Linked DNA regions of Homo sapiens: region 2 is linked to region 1. Evidence: fine-mapped QTL for protein levels in blood plasma. A gene starts in region 1. The other region holds a variant in brackets. All regions are shown on one strand. Distances are from middle to middle.

Region 1 (4,394 bases):
TGAAATAATTATAAAATAAAAAGTTTTTGTTTTTGTGTTTGTAAGGAATGAGCACGCACTTCCATCTGCCCTCATCCCTTTACCCTTCCTGTTGGCTGGGAGATGATGACCCTAGAGAGTGGTGGGTGTGTGCTGTGGATGGTGGCACTGCCCTACCAGCCCTGGGCCACTGTCTTCTACTGTTTGGGGAGAAATCATCTATGTTGTTAAGTCACTGCATTGGAGGGTCTCTTTGCTACAGCTCCATGTCCTGCAACTAACTAATACCAGCTGTAATAAGGAGAGATTGGAGGAAGGTGGCTTCTTAGGAGCCTGGTGCACTGGTTTAGTTATTCCTATTGAGGGCATGGAAAATGGGGTCACGGAGAGAGTTGGTGAAGACCACTCATTTGGGGAGAGTTAGTGAAAGGAAATTAAGAATAGGAGAGCAACTTGAGGGCGCAATAGAGTCTTAGGATCCTCTGGGAGAGATTTTCCCTTTTAAGAAGCAGAGAAAATAGTCCAAGGGAGAAAAGAGATGTTTGGGAGTTGGGAAATTTTCTGGTGACCCTGGTTCCTACTGCACTGGTCACCTCTGTATATGGCTGGCCCAGATTCCAGGGCCAGATAGCAGGATTATTTGTGGTTGTAAGTGAAGGGCAGAGAACTATGAACCTACCTGGACTGAGGTGGAGAGGATCAAATATGATTTAGTGGGATACATAAGGAGAATTAAAAAGTTATAATAATCATGGTAGCAGGTAATCTTTACCAAGTCCTCATTGTGTCTTGGGACTAGTCTAAGTTCTTTACCCCATCTACTCATTTGAACCTCACAATAACCATAAGACACTATTCCTATTTTACAGACGAGTAAGCTGAGCCACAAAGAAGTTGTCAAAGGTCATTTGCAAGTAGCAGACACAAGCTTCAGATCCAGGCAAGCTGCCTCTGGGAACCCCCCTCCAATTTCTGGGGGCCACTTTTTGGTCCCCCGTCTCTCCTTCTCCTTTCCCTCCAGCAGCATTTGATGCTGACATAGGTGAACTGGAAACATATGGTCTCCTTCATTTTGTTGTGGATCTGCACTCCAGAATCTACTTCCCACAGAGCAGGAGAGGGATGGGGTGTAAGGAAGGGTGGCAGGTGTCAGCCCATGCCCTATTGAAATGACTCTGGTTCATAGGAAGGATGAAGGCCTGTCCATCTGAGGGCAAAAGAGGAAGGGCAGCCAGAAAGGGGCACGACTATTCTTTCCTGATTTTGGAGCTCTTGTACTGTTGGCGTGTGGGAGGCATTTGGGATGGGGTGAGGGTCAGAGTGGGCTTGTGGGACCGAATGTCCCCAGTCTGTTATTCCTGCCCCCACTTCAGAGTCCTGCCACTCACAAGTGTGAGACGATGGATGAAGGAGGAGGGAAGTCAGAAGAGCTTCTGTCCCTGAGGGTCTCTGCTCATTTCTTTCTGTGCTAAAGGCTTTTTCCCATTTTAAAAGCAGTAGGCAGGAAGTCCCAGAATGCCTGAAACAGGAAAAAGAGAAAGAAACTTTATAAATGCACTTTTGAACCCCGAGACCCAGCTCCTGGCCAGGAGACAGGCAAACTCTTTTAATATCCTTATTCTGGATTCACTTAAATGGAAACAGCCTCCAGTATTTTTAGCTGCTGTGTAATCAAAGTGAAAAAGAAGAAGGAAATGTATATATTTTTCTTTCCTAGTTAGAATAAGAGAAGGAATTGCTCATTATCTTTTAGCAGAGTCCCTGCTAGGAAGGGAGGAAAACACCAGGAGTCTCCATTTGCTCCTCCTCTGGCCTAGACAGGATTTAAACCCAGGAAGGGAAGCCAAGGAGAGACGAGAACCAGGGACGACCAGCAAGTACCAAGGTCTGCGGCAGGAGGAGACCGGCTCACAGGAGCAGCAGCATTGGAAGAGGCACCCAGCAGCCTCCCAGGTAAGAGTGCCAGTTGCCCAAGCTTTACTTACTGGAGGGAGGGAGGTGGCCAATGCAGATGAGCTCAAAAGTGGTGGCTCAGGTGCCTCCGTTCCCGAGCCTGAAAATCCGGGCAGTGTAATTAGTCTCCTATCACCTCCATGAAGAGTTAAAATGAATTGGGAAGTACCTCTCAGGACCCGTGTACTGCATCCTTAGTATTATACTCCAGTCTCAGACAGGGCTAAGCATAGTTATCCTCTTTCCTGCAACACAGATGCGTCTGTGTTGTATCAGCTTCTACCTGGCGTAACACATTTTTGTATAAAATGTTTCCTTTAAGATGTTCCTTCTCATTTTTTTTTCTTTTTAACTTACTTACAATGTCAAAGCTTTCTCTCTCTCTGTCTTTTTTTGGATAATTTAGTATTGTTGTATTTCATTATTCTTTTAAATCCTAAAACAGAATTGTTATTTTAGTTATGATTAGGAAGCTATGATAACTTTCCCTTTGTCTGGATTTTGTGTGAATCAGTTAAGGGGATGTTTGCAAACACATTTGAACAGCTTTGAAGTATCTCCAGACATTTAATTTTACAGGTTTTAATTATTATTTGTTAAGACGACAACTTCTCTCGAAATCCCCATACTATTACCCTCACAATACCTCAAAGAAAACATTTCAAGACATCTAAAAAAATGATGTGGTTGGCCGGGCATGGTGGCTCATGCCTGTAATCCCAGCACTTTGAGAGGCTGAGGCAGGTGGATCACCTGAGGTCGAGAGTTCGAGACCAGCCTGACCAACATGGAGAAACTCCGTCTCTACTAAAAATACAAAAAATTAGCCGGGCGTGGTGGCGCATGCCTATAATCCCAGCTACTTGGGAGGCTGAGGCAGGAGAATTGCTTGAACCTGGGAGGTGGAGGTTGCGGTGAGCCGAGATTGAACCATTGCACTCCAGCCTGGGCAACAAGAGCAAAACTCCATCTAAAAAACAAAAACAAAACAAAGCAAACAAACAAAAAAAACTAGTTTTTGGAGGTCTTACTTTTTACTTATTTATTAATTTTTGTGCTTGGGAGAGATCTGGGGGAAGGATGGAGAAAGAATGAATGAGAACAGGCAGGGCTTCACTTAAAAGCATGAAACCTGTGTTGCTTATATAAGCATTAAAAAAAAGAACAAGTTCCAACATAAAAGTAACAAACTGCCCACATTGGGACACAGGTTAGCCACAGTGCCTAAAATCCACTGGTTCTTGGAAAAGCTGAGGTGTCACCAAGGCATCAGATGATACCTTGCTCGGTCAGGGCTACGTATTGGCAGCTGGCCTCTTGACATTCAGACATTTGTTGCAGACTCAGAATCAAGGTGACAGTGTCAGACACAGGAAAAAATAGAGTATCAATACTGGTATCATTTTTCCAGGAGAGAAGGGAAGAAGGCACCTGGCATTCTTTCATACAACTCTAAGTACTGCTTTGTCCCCAGTTTATAGGCTGCAGCTGACTCCCGAAGGAGGGAAAATAGAACAAATGATTTCAAATCATCCCGTGGCTTCTGGTTTTCCAGTCCAGTGCTGCTCTGTGGTTTGAAATGTAGGGTGGGCAGAGCTCTCTTTCTGAGAAGATGCCTGAGGAAATTGTGCCCAGGCCCAGTGGAAACTTTTGTCCATTCACTGCTCATTCCAGAGCCTTGGCTCCTATAGGATCTGGATACAGACATGAGATCATGGTTTAGGTCCTGTAGCCACATCTGGAGCCACCAGTCTGTGAGCAGAAGTTGCTAAGATCTCAGGCCTGATCTCTGGATGGACAGGGACTTTGCTGCTTCTGCCACAGTGGACTCACTGCTAATGCTGCCCAGCCACCATTTGAATCTGTACCCAGCGAGTGTGAGTGGAACAGTGCAAATGCTTGGAAATTAGCAAACGCTCTCCTCCTTGCTAGAAGACTGGAACTTTAAAGTTACTTCAATATGTGGAAAACAACACGTTAGCTAAAGAAAGAAATTGCAGAGTTTTTTGTTTTGTTTTGTTTTAATCTGACGCCCCTCACACCCATGGATATTAGGGCTAATTGTATACAAAGTAATATTTAGTCATTCTGGGGACTGGCTGTTTGGTTGAATAAGGGAGAGGAAGGTTCCTGAATTTAGGTCCCGTGTCTATTTTATCTTGTTATTGTGCATGAGCTTGGTCCCACAAAAGCTAAAGGAAGTTCTTGCTGTGAGAAAGTGATTCATTCTCTGGGGGTAAATGAACATCTTTGCCTGATGTCCAAGAGGAGATTTTAAAGTGCTTTGCACAGAGCCTGGCATGTAATAAATGCATAGAAAATGGTAGCTACCATTATCATCACTCATTTGAGCCTTTGCAAGGCAGATTAAGAGTCAGTTGTCAAAACAAAACAAAATGAGCCTGTGGTCACCCCTGAAAAAGTGATTGAGTGCTGAGGCTGGGTCAGGACACCATCCTTGA
Region 2 (4,351 bases), 20 kb after region 1:
GGAGAAACCCTGTCTCTACTAAAAATACAAAATAAGCTGGGCGTGGTGGCGCATGCCTGTAATCCCAGCTACTCGGGAGACTGAGGCAAGAGAATTGCTTGAGCCCGGGAGGTGGAGGTTGTGGTGAGCCGAGATCGTGCCATTGCACTCCAGCCTGGGCAACAAGAGTGAAACTCCATCTCAAAAAAAAAAAAAAAAAAAAGAGAATTCTGGGATTTACATGTAGAGAGAGTCTATCCCTTTATGTACTGATGTCTATTTTTGGGCAGGGAAAGGGAAGCAAACTTTTCCTATTTCAAATTTTTCTTGCCATTGAAAATCTCTCCCAGGGTCTTGGAGTCAAGGGACAAGACTGTCTGACACCGTTCTGCTTATTTTAATAGCTTCTATCACCGCGTTGTTTTTAAGGCATTTATTATCTAGGACATAGGCACATAGCTCCTTATTCCCTAAAGACAAGTGATCTATAATTTTCTTCTTGCCACACCTGTGTTTTTTCCTGATGCCCACATTCAGTAGACTCCTCTAAAATGTCAAAAGATATTAAAAACCCTCACATGGGAGTAGTGGTATGTTGTCATCTGTGTATTGAGAAAATATATAATGATAAAAGGTTACAAATCAGTCATATTTGACAATAAGTTTGTAATTTATTAATCAGAACAGAATTGGAAAACATGGTAGGCATACATACGAGACATCCTAGGTAACTTTTAGTTTTTAAACCATGCTTGAGCCCATATTGAATTGTGAACTTCCTCATTAACTCTGTGCTCCTGCCTTCCCCATGCTGGAAACCTGTGATCTAGAACATAGTGCCA[T/C]TCGGGGAGACTAATCCTTGGAGCTGGTAAAGAAGGAGTCTTTGAGTTTTGAGTCTTCGTTGAAAAGTTTTTTAGTTCTTTCCAATTCAGTCCTGGAAATAGCTGGTTATGGTGGTGAGAATAAGAGGTGAGATGTTGTGAGAATTGAATTCACTATTTCAGCTGCCTAACAGATTGCTTATCTGCAGTATGAAACAGTTATAGTTGGGCATTTATAATGGAGAACATATAACTTAATTTACAAACTAGACAAGGTAGACTGTACAGTCTGCCTGAATAGTGGACTAGGGAACTGTTTTAATGGGTTAGAAAATGGTAAGTACTTCTGTGCTTCCAGTGGCATTCCCTGTAGCTGTGAATTAATTGAGAGCTTACTGAGTGCCAGGCATTATAATCACTAAGCACTTTTTATGAATATCTCATTTAGTTCTCACAGCAATCCAATGAAGTAGATACTATTATTATTTCTCTGCCACATATAAGAAAACTGGAGAAGTTAAGCTCAAGATTGCCCAGCCAGGAAAGGACAGAGCTGGGATTTGAACCCAGGATACCCAAGTCTAAACCTTTGGGCTTAGCTACTGCAAACCAAAAAGTATCTGAGATAGGCCTTAATCAACTTAGAAGTTTATTTTTCCAAGGTTAAGGACATGCCTGGGAGAAAGAAACATGGAATCACAGAAACAATCTGTGGTCTGTACCTTTCTCCAAAGATGATTTTGAGGACTTCAATATTTAAATGGGAAAAGTGGGCTGAAGAGGAAATAGGGAGGGTATAATTCCCATGTTGGAAGAGAAAGGAGCAGGTAGCGGGATAGTCAATTACGTGTTGAGTACATTTGCACTTTTCTCAGGATAAGGTGAACGTGGAGTAGCTACCTGTGGAGATATTTAACCTTTTATCCGGCGTAGGAACAAAAGGAAAGGCAGCTTCTTGCATAACTCAGCTTTCAGCTTTATTTTTTCCTTTTGGCAGAGTGAATTGGGGTCCCGAGTTTTTTATTTTCATTTCAAACTACAAAGCTAAAGTGCTTCCCACTTTTACCTTCCTGTAAGAGATAAACACTTTTTCTTCTCTTACACAGTCAACACAACACAGAACATTTCACCTCTGGAAGTGATTTTTCCCCATACACCAGGGAGTTTTCCATCGGACACAAACTGGATGTTCTATAATTCAATTCATATCTGACATTGTCTCCCTGGAAATAGCCTCAGATCCCACAAGTTAAAGGCCCAGTCCCACAAGACTTTCCTCACTTCAGATGCCTGTCACAGTCCCCAGGTTAGGACCTGTACTTCTGACCAATCAGCTAGAAATTGGGGGTTCTTATGACTCCCCTCCTTGAGTTCCATTAATTTGCTAGAGCAGCTCACAGAACGCAGGGAAACACTTTACTTACGTTTACCTATTTAGTATAATAAAGAATATTACAAAGATCCAGGTGAAGAACCAGATGGAAGAGATGCATAGGTCAAGGTACGTGCTTCCATGGCCTCTGTGGGTGTGCCACCCTCCCCAAACCTCCACTTGTTCAGCAACCAGGAAGCACTCTGAACCCAGTCCTTTTGGGTTCTCATGGAGACCTCATTATATAGGAATGATTGATTACATCATTGGCCACTGGTGATTAACTCAACCTTTAGCAACTGTGAGCGCCTCTCTCCTTCCCCTTGTTAGGGGGGTGGGTAGGTGGGGCTGGTAGTTCCAATCCTCTAATCACAATGTTGGTTCCCTGGAAACCACCCCCTTTCTGAGGCTACCCAGGAGCACCCCTCAACCCCTTACAGCAGTCATCTCATTAACATACAGAAGACACCTCACTTTGGAGATTCCAAGGGTTTTAGGAGCTGTGTGCCAGGAATCAGGGACCCAAAACCAAACATGTGTTTCTTGTTATAAATCATAACATCACACCTCCCCTCCTTCTTGCCCATTATTTCTGGTTAATTTTCATACTGTTTGCTTCCTAACTGAAAAATTTTCTATGATTCCTCACTGACTGAGGAGGAAGCATAATGCTTTTATCTTGGCCTCCGTGGCCCACCCAGCCTGGGCCACTGTTATTCTCATTACTTCCCCAGGGAAAGCCTTCCTGTAGCCAGACTGTTTGTGGGGTTTCCTAACAGAAAGCTTATCTCTGCAAGTGGGTTTCTGTTGTTACTTAGCCTGGAAAACCCTTGCCATTATTTCTAGCCACAAATTAATTTAATTCAACAAACATTTATTGCAGGATGTATCTGGGCCAAAGAGACCTGGTCCCTTTAGAAATTTCCAGAGCTGATAAGCCATGGTCCTTTTCCTTCAGGGGATCACAGCAATAATGTGACGTATCCTTCCAGGCTGTGCTCAAACAGTTTCTCCACTGCAGCCTTCTATGACCGCATTAAATGTCAGCCAGATTTGTTTCTGAGGTCTGAGAGCATTTAATCACATATGGCCTTGAATTGCTAGTTAGCCTTCCACCTATACTGGAATGTTGTTACTCAAAAGTGTTTTTATTGTCAATTATATCCTAAAACCAGGATAGAATATTTTATTGGATTGCAAATAAATTTGTGTCATGTGTTTTACCAGCATCAAAAAGAAAAAGACACTGTAATTTATAGGGTCAGGAAACACTCTTAAACCTGGCTAGACTGTTAATTAATTTAAGGGAAAAGAAGAATCTCTGTTTTCTCCAAACGTTTTGCATCCCACCAGGTGGAAAAGGATGCTGGAACTTAAGAACAGCCTAAGCATGTGCAGGAGGAAACGAGGAAATGACACCGTTCAGGGATTTTTCATGTAACGAGGCACCCAGTGTAACTAACACCATGACAGGGAAATGGTTGACTGAAATTCCTCACCCTGTTACCCAACATGCTCAAAGTGCGCTGGAACACCTTCCAGAAAGGCCAGCCTCAGAAGCAGGTCAGCTTAAGGAGCAGCAAGCATACGCCAGGCCAGTGTCTCTGGGGGATTGGCGAGGGGAATGTCCCTGGACTTCTGCATCATACCCTGACAGCTATGCTTCCCATTCAATGAAAAGAAAGGGAGGCTACTAACTGAGAGGTGATGTCATTCTTTTGTCCTCTATCTATAAAATGAAGAGTTGGACTAAATGAGTTTAAAGTCCTTTCTCTTTTCTTATGATGATGGTATTCTGTTAATAGCTTCATGCTTTTCCCTGGTGTGTATAAAACAAAGCATGCTTGCTTTGTTATAATTTCACAAGCTCCCATGCACAGCAAAGGTTATAGCCTAGAATATTCACTTGTCATCAATTTTCTCAGAACTTTCCTCCTTAGACTATGCTGTGAAATAGCAGTTTTGCTTTTCTTAATATCTTTTTCACTTTTTACTGATTTCCAAACACAATGTTCCATTTGAAATGGCTTAGCCCCTAAAACTTTGGAAACTCCTTCATGTCCTAGGCTGAGCTCCTGTCACCATTGAGAACTCCTGTCTCATACACAGCCACCAACACACACATTTAGCATCTGGACAACAGCAACAATCTCTATCATTTGCGCGATCACTGTATTCT

Alleles and levels. Positions count from the first base shown, and alleles are read on the strand shown. Strength reflects both the effect of a copy and how common the allele is.
In carriers of allele C in region 2, the plasma level of the protein whose gene starts at base 1,830 in region 1 tends to be lower than with T alone (strong association).

The links. A credible set is the group of variants that fine-mapping cannot tell apart. PIP is the posterior inclusion probability: the model's chance that the variant is causal. The UK Biobank Pharma Proteomics Project read protein levels with antibody pairs (Olink). The fine-mapping took linkage between variants from a reference panel, not from the people measured, so its PIPs are less certain.
Region 2: its variant is the best candidate, but not a certain one, in a credible set for the plasma level of the TNN protein (UK Biobank, PIP 0.57).

What each region holds. Positions count from the first base shown.
Region 1 is chr1:175,066,004-175,070,397 of GRCh38, forward strand. TNN (tenascin N) reads left to right here and starts at 1,830. Exons shown (of 19, transcript NM_022093.2): 1 at 1,830-1,932. RefSeq lists an enhancer at 1,151-2,350.
Region 2 is chr1:175,085,693-175,090,043 of GRCh38, forward strand. All of the region lies in intron 6 of TNN (tenascin N), which reads left to right. Among named protein-coding and RNA genes, the nearest start is that of TNN, 20 kb to the left of the region's middle. The variant T/C (reference allele first, on the strand shown) is at 822.